Linked DNA regions of Homo sapiens: region 2 is linked to region 1. The links come from fine-mapping of genetic effects on gene expression. A gene starts in region 1. The other region holds a variant in brackets. All regions are shown on one strand. Distances are from middle to middle. Region 1 holds the start of CTNS (cystinosin, lysosomal cystine transporter). Region 2 overlaps CTNS (cystinosin, lysosomal cystine transporter).

What was found.
Region 2: its variant is fine-mapped to the expression of CTNS in tibial artery (GTEx, PIP 0.92).

What each region holds. Positions count from the first base shown.
Region 1 is chr17:3,634,474-3,639,831 of GRCh38, forward strand. CTNS (cystinosin, lysosomal cystine transporter) reads left to right here and starts at 2,287. Exons shown (of 12, transcript NM_004937.3): 1 at 2,287-2,358; 2 at 2,634-2,843. It overlaps SHPK (sedoheptulokinase), which reads right to left and starts at 1,777. Exons shown (of 7, transcript NM_013276.4): 1 at 1,579-1,777. The coding sequence starts at 1,746. LOC105371493 (a long non-coding RNA gene) reads right to left here. Exons shown (of 6, transcript XR_007065579.1): 6 at 4,024-4,612. RefSeq lists enhancers at 1-194, 2,033-2,282 and silencers at 1,493-1,552, 2,563-2,652.
Region 2 is chr17:3,659,091-3,664,448 of GRCh38, forward strand. It overlaps CTNS (cystinosin, lysosomal cystine transporter), which reads left to right. Exons shown (of 12, transcript NM_004937.3): 11 at 768-885; 12 at 1,146-4,013. The coding sequence ends at 1,279. TAX1BP3 (Tax1 binding protein 3) reads right to left here. Exons shown (of 4, transcript NM_014604.4): 3 at 5,105-5,182; 4 at 3,805-4,795. The coding sequence ends at 4,658. It overlaps P2RX5-TAX1BP3 (P2RX5-TAX1BP3 readthrough (NMD candidate)), which reads right to left. Exons shown (of 15, transcript NR_037928.1): 14 at 5,105-5,182; 15 at 3,803-4,795. Among named protein-coding and RNA genes, the nearest start is that of TAX1BP3, 6.8 kb to the right of the region's middle. The variant C/T (reference allele first, on the strand shown) is at 2,395.

The DNA.
Region 1 (5,358 bases):
AGGCACGAAAATCACTTGAACCCGGGAGGCAGAGGTTTCAGTGAGCAGAGATTGCACCACTGCACTCCAGCCTGGGTGACAGAGCGAGACCCTGTCTCAAAAAAAAAAAAAAAAAAAAAAGAAGTGCTCTATTTCAGGAGAAACTGGCACTTTCTGAGCCTACTCTCCCCTAATGCCAGCTCTCCTGCTCACCCCACCAGGGTCAGAGCCAACTTTGCCTCCAATTCATAGTCCTTTAAGTAAGAATCCTTTTAATATGCCCTAATGTCCCAACCAAACTAATCTTGAAAGCTTCTATGTAGATACAAAGTGCTCCTGAAATCCCTATCCTCAGAAATGCTTCTGAGCCAAATGGGCTCTGAACCCTAAACAACCGTGTCCATGTATGTGGCAAGAGCTTGTGAAAAACAAAGCTGGGCCAGGCGCAGTGACTCACAACTGTAATCCTAGCACTTTGGGAGGCTGAAGTGGGCAGATCACTTGAGGTCAGGAGTTCAAGACCAGTCTGGCGAACATGGCGAAACCCTGTCTCTACTAAAAATACAAAAAGTAGCCGGGCGCGGTGGCTCACACCTGTAGTCCCAGCTACTCGGGAGGCTGAAGCAGGAGAATCACTTGAATCCAGTTGGCGGAGGTTGCAGTGAGCCCAGATCACGCCACTGTACTCCAGCCTGGGCAACAGAGCGAGACTTGGTAAGAAAGAGAAAGAAAGGAAAGAATGAAGGAAGGAAGGAAGGAAGGAAGGAAGGAAGGAAGGAAGGAAGGAAGGAAGGGAAGGAAGGGAAGGAGTCTCGCTCTGTCACCCAGGCTGGAGTGCAACGGAGCGATCTCGACTCACTGCAAGCTCCGCCTCCCGGGTTCGCGCCATTCTCCTGCCTCAGCCTCCCGAGTAGCTGGGACTACAGGCGCCCGCCACCACGCCCCGCTAATTTTTTGTATTTTTAGTACAGACGGGGTTTCACCGTGTTAGCCAGGATGGTCTCGATCTCCTGACCTCGTGATCCGCCCGCCTCGGCCTCCCAAAGCGCTGGGATTACAGGCGTGAGCCACCGCGCCCGGCTGACCAAAGGTTTCTTGGTCCGCATTCTGCTTCTGTGGAATGAGCCAGGAGCCAGTTAGGCCTGATTTGACATCTGATTTCCGGAGGAAAACCCAGACTCTGCCCTGGGCAACAAACTGAATCCTGAACTTGAGGTCACAGGGCAGGTGTGAGGAGCGGAGAGCAGCAAGAGTGAAAGGGAGGCCTGTGGTCATTCCATACACACAAGAGATCAGTTCCTCCAAGGTCAGGGGACAGAGAGCACAGGGATCCAGCGCCAAGCGCAAGGCCCCCAGAAGAAGCCAGAGAGTCGGGGAGGGGGCGGGGGGGAATCGGTCCCAGCAGGTGGGAAGGATTCTGGGACCAGACCTAAGGGATCATGAGCACAGCTGCTGCAGGCAGACGGGCCCCTGGAGAAGCTGGGGACAAGCTGGAATAGAGACTTCATTGCGGGAAGGGCTGTCAGGGAGGCCTCCTGGGGTGGAAAAGGGTGGTCAGGAGGCTCCTGGAGGCGGCGCGGCCCCGGGGGTCCAACTCACCTGGGGCCCGGCCACCGCGCTCTCGACCGCCGCCTCTGCCCGCGCAGCACGGGCACAGCTCGCCAGCACTGCGAACCCGGATGGGTCGTCGGGCGCGGCCCTCAGCAGAGCTGCCTTCACAGATGTGGTGCCCAGGTCAATGCCGAGGGTGATCGGCCGCGCAGCCATTATCTCCCTGACCCGCGCAGCTCCAGTCTGCAGCCAGCGGCCCCACAAGTCCGCGCTCTTCGCCCAGGGGGGCGGGGCAGGGGCGGGGAGTCGCCTGCCAATCTTTCAGCCACACCCAACATGGAGGCTTCTCGTCTTCCCACTGGCCGGGGAAGGCGAGCTTCCACGCAACCTCTCGGCGGGCCCCGGCTATAGGCGGAGAGGCGGCGGAAGGCGGGACCTAAAGGGGGCCCCGCCCCACGGGCTCTGATTTCCGCCCAATGGAGGGCGGTCTGAGCTTCGCTCACGAAAGGAGCCGGGAGGCGCTGGCGGCTCCAAGAGTCTCTGTGTCCCTGGCAGCGGACCTCATCTTCCCTCACGCCGGAGCCCCGATCTCTGCGCCCCGGCCCGACCCAGCTGCGCTCTGTCCGTCTAAGACGCGCGGAAACTACAACTCCCAGAGCTCATCTCGCCGAGATCCGGCCCCACGAGTCAGGTGGCGGAGGTCAGGTGACAGCGGACCCGCCTCTCCCAAAGTCTAGCCGGGCAGGGGAACGCGGTGCATTCCTGACCGGCACCTGGCGAGGCTCATGCGTCCCGTGAGGGCGGTTCCTCGAGCCTGGGGGCGCTCAGGTGAGAGCGGACGCGGCCTCCCCTGTTTCCCAGGCGGACCCCTTGAGGCACAGCAGGTCAGCGGGGCAGCCTGCCGGGGGTCCAGCGCCCTCAGCCGCGGCGGGCTCCTTTCCCCGCCACCAGTGCTGGCCTCGCGACACGGGACAACCCCCGGGTGGAAGGGCCCGAGCGGTGGTCAGCCGAGGCAGGGGCAGCGGGCTGCCGGGGTGGGTGCCGTTCCCAGCCCCTTACCTTCTGCTCAGTTGCCGCCTGGGTCTCGGTTGGGGAATTTGCAGATTGCTTTGGAGACGCTGAGAGAACCTTTGCGAGAGCGCCGGTTGACGTGCGGAGTGCGGGGCTCCGGGGGACTGAGCAGCACGAGACCCCATCCTCCCCTCCGGGTTTTCACACTGGGCGAAGGGAGGACTCCTGAGCTCTGCCTCTTCCAGTAACATTGAGGATTACTGTGTTTTGTGAGAGCTCGCTAGGCGCCCTAAGCAACAGAGGTAACCACTTTATATCCTTGTTTCTCAACCTCGTTATTCCTACCTACCCCCTTCCCATAAAATTTAATACCACTAGTACGCTGTGTATTTGTTTCTGTGGCCACAAACCATTGTAATAGCTAGATTTCTTCACTACCACCCCAAGCCAATTTTTTTTTTTTTTTTGAGATGGAGTCTGCAGCCTCTGTCACCCAGGCTGGAGTGCAGTGGCGCGATCTCGGCTCACTGCAACCTCCGCCTCCGGGGTTCAAGCGATTCTCCTACCTCAGCCTTCCGAGTAGCTGGGACTACAGGCCTGAGCCACCATGCCCAGCTAATTTTTGTATTTTTAGTAGAGATGGGGATTCACCATGTTGGCCAGGCTGGTCTCGAACTCCTGACCTCAGGTGATGCGCTCACCTCGGCCTCCCAAAGTGCTGGGATGACAGGCGTGAGCCACCGCGCCCAGCCTACCCCCAGCCAATTTTAGTCCCACTTGACAATGCGTGCTTTACATCTCCTCATTTAAGTCCTGTGAGGTAGTTACCACCTCCTTGTTTGGCACCACAAGGTCGCATAAGTAATAAATAGGTCAAGCCTGTCTCCAGTGCACACAGCCCTTGCCACTATTTGTGTACCCTCTCCAAAAGCAGGAGACCCAGGGAGTTCCAGGTCGTAGAACAGAGGACAGGACCAACTCATACCTGGCAGACAGGAGCTGCCACACTAGACCCCTAGCCCCAGGTTGCTCCTGGGAAGGGACTGAATGGGTGAGGAGCCTTCTTGAAACATGTGACATCTGAATGAGGCCTGGACAATAGTTAGAACTTACATAGGAAGGGCACGCCAGACAGAGCCCATTGTCAGGAGATACTTCATTTCTATCTTGTAGCTTTCACAAGCCACTAGTTGTATGTAATTATCAATCTGGTTTTTTTTTTGTTTTTTTTTTTTAATTTGAGACGGAGTTTCACTCTTATCACTCAGGCTGGAGTGCAATGGTGCAATCTCGGCTCACTGCAACCTCCACCTCCCGGGTTCAAGCGATTCTCCTGCCTCAGCCTCCTGAGTAGCTGGGACTACAGGCACATGCCACCACGCCTGGCTAATTTTTGTATTTTTAGTAGAGACGGGGATTCACCATGTTGGCCAGGCTGGTCTCGAACTCCTGACTTCAAGTGATCCAACTGCCTCGGCCTCCCAAAGTGCTGGAATTACACACACGAGCCACTGCGCTCAGCCTAATCTGATGTTTTTTAACATTTTAATTGACTTACCTCTCAATGTCGTTTTGTCTCTGCTGGCATCGTTCCTCCAGGGGTCTCAGCCTTTGAGGCTTGGGAATGTTTGCTGACCAAGTCTGTGAGTTTGAGAAGCTGGTTAGGCCTGATTCTGCATCTAATTTCTGGAGAAAAACCAGACTCTGTCCTGGGCAACAAACTGAATCCTGAACTTGAGGCCACAGGGCAGGTGTGAGGAGCGGAGGGCAGCAAGAGTGAGAGGGAGGCCTGTGGTCATTCCATACACGCAGGAGGGCAATTCCTCCAAGGTCAGGGGACAGAGCACAGGGATCCAGCGCCAAGAGCAAGGCCCCCAGAGGAGGCCAGAGAGTAGGTACGGGGTCATTCCCGGCCGGTGAGAAGGGTCTCAGATGAGGCAGACCTGCAGCAGGCAAAGAGAGAACCCTGGAGGAGACGGGCCAACAGAGGTCAGACAGCTGGAGCAGCCAGGGAGACTTCTTGAGGAGTGTGTAAGGGAGATGTCCGGAGATGCTGGAGGCCTTGGGGAAACTGAAATCAGAGTGGGAACAGGGATGTCTCCACACAGACCTTACCCAGAGCTCCCCACAGTCTGCAGGAGGCCCGTGAGACTGTGTACTGAGGCAGCACGGAGACCAAGCTACAGAAATCCATGCCGGCCTGGCTGCTCTTGACCCACTGTTCACCTGCTGTGTCTTGGGTTTACAGGAATGCAGCTCCCCATCTTCCACACTAAACCAAGGACTTGCTCTGGGGCTCATCCCTCCCCGAGTCCTCCTTGTGAATGACCCCAGCCAGTCCTGGAATGGTGACACTTGTCAAATAAAGTCTTGACAGGCGCGGTGGCTCCTACCTGTAACCCCAGCACTTTGGGAGGCTGAGGCGGGCGGATCACTCGAGGTCAGGAGTTTGAGACCAGGCTGGCCAACATGGTGAAACCCCATCTCTACTAAAAATACAAAAGTTAGCCGGGCATGGTGGGGGGCACCTGTAATCCCAGCTACTCAGGAGGCTGAGGCACAAGAATTGCTTGAACCCAGGGGGTGGAGGTTTCAGTGAACAGAGTTCGCACCACTGCACTCCAGCCTGGGCAACAGAGCAAGACTCTGTCTCAAAAAAAAAAAAATTTAAATATGTATATTAAAAAAAAATGTTTTTTTAAGTCTTAAGGGTCAGTTGGTGTCATCAGCCCTTAGACTCTTATCCCAGGACAGGAAAGGAAATTAATTTCCTTGAGGTTTATAGGTTCACAATGTCAAATATCTGACCACAGTTTT
Region 2 (5,358 bases), 25 kb after region 1:
GGAGGGGCAGCAGCAAGTACGGAAGAGGGTGAGCCGGGACACAGACAGGGACTGACTAGAGGCTCACTGGGAGGCCACCAGAGAGGCCAGGACCTGCCTCACGGGGGGAAGGAAAGGTCACAGCAGTCAGAGGACCCACAGGGCTCTGCAGCATGGGAGGACGTGGGGCACAGGCAGTCAGACTGGGGCGCATCCCCGCAGACCCGCCCCCCCAACCAGACCCAGGAAGCCCCGGCCAGGCCTGTGGGGGGCGTTAACCCCGCTCTACAGACGGGGAAACCAAGGCTAGGAGAACTGTCACTTGCCCAAGACAGCAGGCTCCGGTGATGGAGCCAGGATTCCAAACCAGAAGTCCCACTCCCACCAGTCCCTAAGCACATGAAGTCCAGGCTGAGTTTGGGGACAGCCTTGCCTGGAGGTGAGAAGAAGAATCATAGCTACAGGGAAACTAGCACAGGGCCTTGGCCCCAGGGATGTGGAGGAGACGGGGAAGGCCGCATCGGCCCCGCCTCTGCTGGAGCTGTGAGGTGTGGGGGGTGCGGGGCCTTTGCTTGCTGTACATGCAGATGAGACGCCTACCCCCAGGACCACCCAAACTGTTCCTTGGCTGAGGCCTGTCATAGCCCAAAGGTCACCGTGTCCTTGGAGCCAAGGCCCCAGTGGGAGGAATGAGAACCGCTTTTGTTTGGAGGGGCAGTCACGAGGCGCATGAGGCAGCCGCCCAGCCCTCACCGCCCTCCGTCTGTCTGTCCGTCTGTCTGGCCCAGGCCTACATGAACTTTTACTACAAAAGCACTGAGGGCTGGAGCATTGGCAACGTGCTCCTGGACTTCACCGGGGGCAGCTTCAGCCTCCTGCAGATGTTCCTCCAGTCCTACAACAACGGTGAGTCAGCCAGCGGGCTGCTGGCCACCCTGCGGCTGGGGCATCGGGCGGGGCCAGCCTTCCCGGGACCTTCCAGCCAGGGCTCCACCCCCACCTGGGATCCAAGCCAATCCAGCCCCCAAGGAGAGACCCACCTAGGGGCCTTCGTAGCTGGAGGCTTTGTGGTTTTCTGGGACCCCCACCGCCCACCACCCCACAAGCTCCAGCTGCCTCAGGAGCTGCCAACCTAACACCAGCTTCTGTCCCCCGGCTGCTAACAGACCAGTGGACGCTGATCTTCGGAGACCCAACCAAGTTTGGACTCGGGGTCTTCTCCATCGTCTTCGACGTCGTCTTCTTCATCCAGCACTTCTGTTTGTACAGAAAGAGACCGGGGTATGACCAGCTGAACTAGCACCCAGGGACCCAGTGTACCCAGCCTCTGGCCTCGTGCCCTGCTGGGGAAGGCCTCACCCAGCGAAGGCCGGAGAAGCGGTTGGGCCCTGGCACACAGGGCTGGCTCAGTGTGCGGACAGAGGAGACCACTCTGCTCCTGGGGCCAGAGGCCATTCAATAGCCTGCCTTCGTCCGGGCCCCTCCTGGGCCTCCCCGGCCAGGCACGTGGCACCGTCGCCTTGACACCGCCATCTCTTTTCTTTAAGGCTTCAGGCAGCGCGCACAGGCTCTGGCAGCCGTCTCAGGCAGGACTGGGCACCAAGCTTGCAGCCGAAGGCCTTGCCCCAAACTACCAGCGTTTCTGCAAGCAGCTTGAAGGGCTGACCTTGCAGCCGGGTGAGCCAAGGGCACTTTGCTGCCACCGCTGCATTCCCAGAGATCAAGCAGCCCGGTGCCGTGGCCAGTGAACTCAGAGGTGCTGGTGGACGGGCTAGGACTTTGGGGTTAGGCCATGGGGCTCTTTCTCTGAAGGCCACTTTCCTGACGTACTCTCTGTACATAACTCAGCGTCCGTGACTGCAGTAACAGCCAGCCCTACCCAGAGTATTTCTGAGCCATGAGGGGCCCACCAGATTGGTTCTGAATTGGATTCATGCCCAGCGCATTAGCATAGTAACTCCTTTCAGATTTTTTGGAGGGACGTTTGGAAGTGGCTTACTCTCTTCTGCCCTCTCTCCTACCTCCACCTTCTCAGATTAGCCCCATCTGAGCACATCCAGCTGCTCCTTACCCAGCATCTGGAGTACAGGACATAGCTCTCTCCTGCTACCAGTCTGTGCCTTAGAGGTCTGTTAGGCCTGCCAAACGGCGACCAGCTCCCCTGGAGCGAGGGCAGGCCCCTTCCCTCTCTTTCCCCAGACACCTACTTGAGACTCACCAATTTCTGGCCTGTTCAGGAGCCTCAGATAAGTATTTGTACTTGAGACCACCTCACACAATCTGTATGGGCCCAACCCTGATCTCAAACCTCCTTCCCTCTGCCCAAAGCTGTCCTTCCTATGGCAGGAGGGGTGGGGGTCCCAGGACGTGCCTCATACATGACTTGAGCTTGTCAGTCCACTGAGTTTCCTTCTA[C/T]GAGATCAACGCGAGGGGCCTGTATCTTGAATTAAAACCTACTCGCTTCCTTTCTGCACTCTGTGTGCTCGATACAGAAGGCAGGTGTGCTGGCCTTCAGAGCCAGGTGCCCTGCTCCCCTCGTGTAAGGAAGCGCATAAGGTTGTGAAGGTCACTGACCCGAGAGCGCTGCGTGCTGACCCCACACTTCACTGGGGAGCCCTCTTGGGTAGCGCGAGACGCCTACCCGCCCAGGGCCAGGTCAGTCTCCCAGGCTCCGTGTCTTCACGGTTACCAGGGCACGCCACTCAATCTGGATGTGAGCCGGGGTGGATGAGGTTCTGAAGGGCACACCAGCACTGGGAGCGGGGGCAGTGGGGGTCTTATTCTCCAGACGCTTCCTCTATCTAGTTGTAACAAACGTCAAAGAATGTCAGGTCTTGTTTCTGCAGAGCAGACTTTGGCCTGACGGGGTCCACAGACCTGTTTCACTTGCAACACCCAGTAAATGTGTTACTGGGTGCCCTACTTTAAAAATCAGAGATTTCAAATGATTGACTTTTCCGGCTGAGTGCGGTGGCTCACGCCTGTAATCCCAGCACTTTGGGAGGCCAAGGCAGATGGATCACCTGACATCAGGAGTTCGAGACCAGCCTAGCCAACATTGCAAAACCCCATCTCTACTAAAGATACAAAAATTAGCTGGGCATGGTGGCGGGCACCTGTAATCCCAGCTACTTGGTTGGCTGAGGCAGGAGAATTACTTGAACCCAGGAGGCGGAGGTTGCAGTGAGCGAAGATCACGCCATTGCACTCCAGCCTGGGCAACAAGAACGAAACTCCATCTCAAAAAAAAAAAAAAATTATTGACTTTTCTTTAAAATCTGATTTGGCAGTGCTAGGTAGGTCCAGGAGTGCTAACACCTTCCCAGAGGTGGTACGCAGGTAGTCAGGTGCTCTCTGACTCACCCCCATCTGGCCAGATCACGGCCCCCAGCAACACGTGGGGTTGTGTCCCTCGCTGGGATACACGGAGTGCCCTTATAGGCAGGGAGTCTTATAGGCAGGGGTCTCTCCCAGGCACCTCTGGGTGTCCCTACGGCCCCTCCCAGGTGGGAGCTGAGGCTAGGTTGCAAAAAGGAGGTTGGGAGCAAGTAGGGGCTTCACAGTAACACCCAAGAAAGCACACGCACCCCAGGGTCCCACCCCAGTGCTCCCAGACACTCCCACAGATGTGGTTCTGGTCAGGCGCAGTGCAGCTGCTGCGGCTCCACCAGCCCCGGGCTTTCAGGCAGGTGGGCCTGGGAGTAGTTGAGCTTTGTCCCAGAACAGTGGGGGATGGGGCCATCATTAAAACCACAGCTCTGGCCCCAATATCCCACCGCCACCCCCACCCCGATATCCCAGCCCATGCCTCAGCAAAGCCCCCTGTGAATTCCAGCATTTTTATTGAGCGCACCACATCGGGGAGGGGCGGCAGTGGTTTCCACGGTAACCAAAGTAAGGCTTGTGCACTTGCTGAGCTTCCAGATGCGAATTAGTAAAAGCTAAATTCAAAAGTAGAATGGGCATCTCCAAAGAGTACGATAAAAACATTTTGTATCAAACTTGTGATTAAAAAAATACAAAAGTTAAACCCACAGGCAAAGAGGAAAATGACAATCCTGAGAGCTGCCCTGATAGGTGAGCCTCGAACCTCGTCTAAATCCGTAAGAAGGCAAACCCTGGGGAGGCCAGCACCCCTCGGGAGAGTGGGAGTGAACGCGGAGCCCACCTGGCTTCATCTGGGCAAAGCTTCGTAGCGCCTCTGGCAGGATGTGTGTCCAGTCCCCCGAGGGGCAGAGGCACTGCGGTGTGGACACACGAGGGCTGGGGGGCAGGGGCGGAGCCGAACCCTGCAGCCAGGCAAAAGCGGGAAAGGCCTGGTTCCTCCAGCATTTCCCAGCTTTTGGGGGCTCCCAAGAGATAGTGGTTCCCACTTGCCCAGCCACTGCTGTGGCCAAGCAGCAGGGTCGGACCTGAGCCTGTGGTCACAGCAGACTGGCTACTACTCAGCTCCAGGCCCTTATTTCCAATCCTCGGTGTCCAGGAGAGAAAGCCGGTCCCAGAGGCCCCAGGCCAGGGATGGGAGAAGGGAAGGAAGGCCAGGCCAGGCCTCTGGGACCAGCTATAGCCCTTCTGAGCTGGGGCCCAGCGGTCAGCAGAAGCCAGATGGGGACAGAGTGTGGAAGTGGCGTTACTGTACAGAGAGGCGGCAGGCAGGAGTCGCAGATGGTGGTGGCTGCTAGGACAGCATGGACTGCTGCACGGCCTTCTGCAGCGACTGCCGCGTCACCAGCAGACGCACCACCTCCTCCGAGCGCTTGGTGAGCCGCTTGCGGGCCTGGTCGTGTGTGACCATGGTCATGTCCCAGCCGTTCACCTGGCCCCAGGAGAGAACACAGGCTCACCTCAGCTCCCCGCCCTCTGGGATCTGGAAGCAGAGGGCTTTGGGGGCCCAGGTCATTCAAGTAGGCCCCCAGCCTAACATCCCAGGGCTGGGAGACACCAAGCACTGTGGCTGAGACACACAGGAGAGAAAGCCAGCGTCCTCTGGGGCAATGCCAGTATGGGTTCCCAATTGGCTGCAGTGAGTCTCTCCCAGCTGGGAGGCTGGGGCAGCTCCCCACCCCCAAGTGCTTCAGACCTGCTTGCCCAAACCTTGTTTCTCCTCCTTTGGGACACCTGTTACCTGCATGATCTTGTCTCCAATCTGCAGCCCAGCGATTTCAGCAGGGCCTCCTTCAGACACCCGTGTGACATAAATACCCTGGAAAGGGGCAGCCCAAGTCAAGCCCTGTGGTCACTGGACTGGCCCCTTATCACACAGCGGAAGCCAGCATGGCACATTCTCAGCCGTCCCTCTGTCCCTGCACCCAGCCTCTCCCAGCACATATGGTCAGTGAGGACTGTTCTGAGAGAGCCGGGGCAGAGTTGCTGCACCAC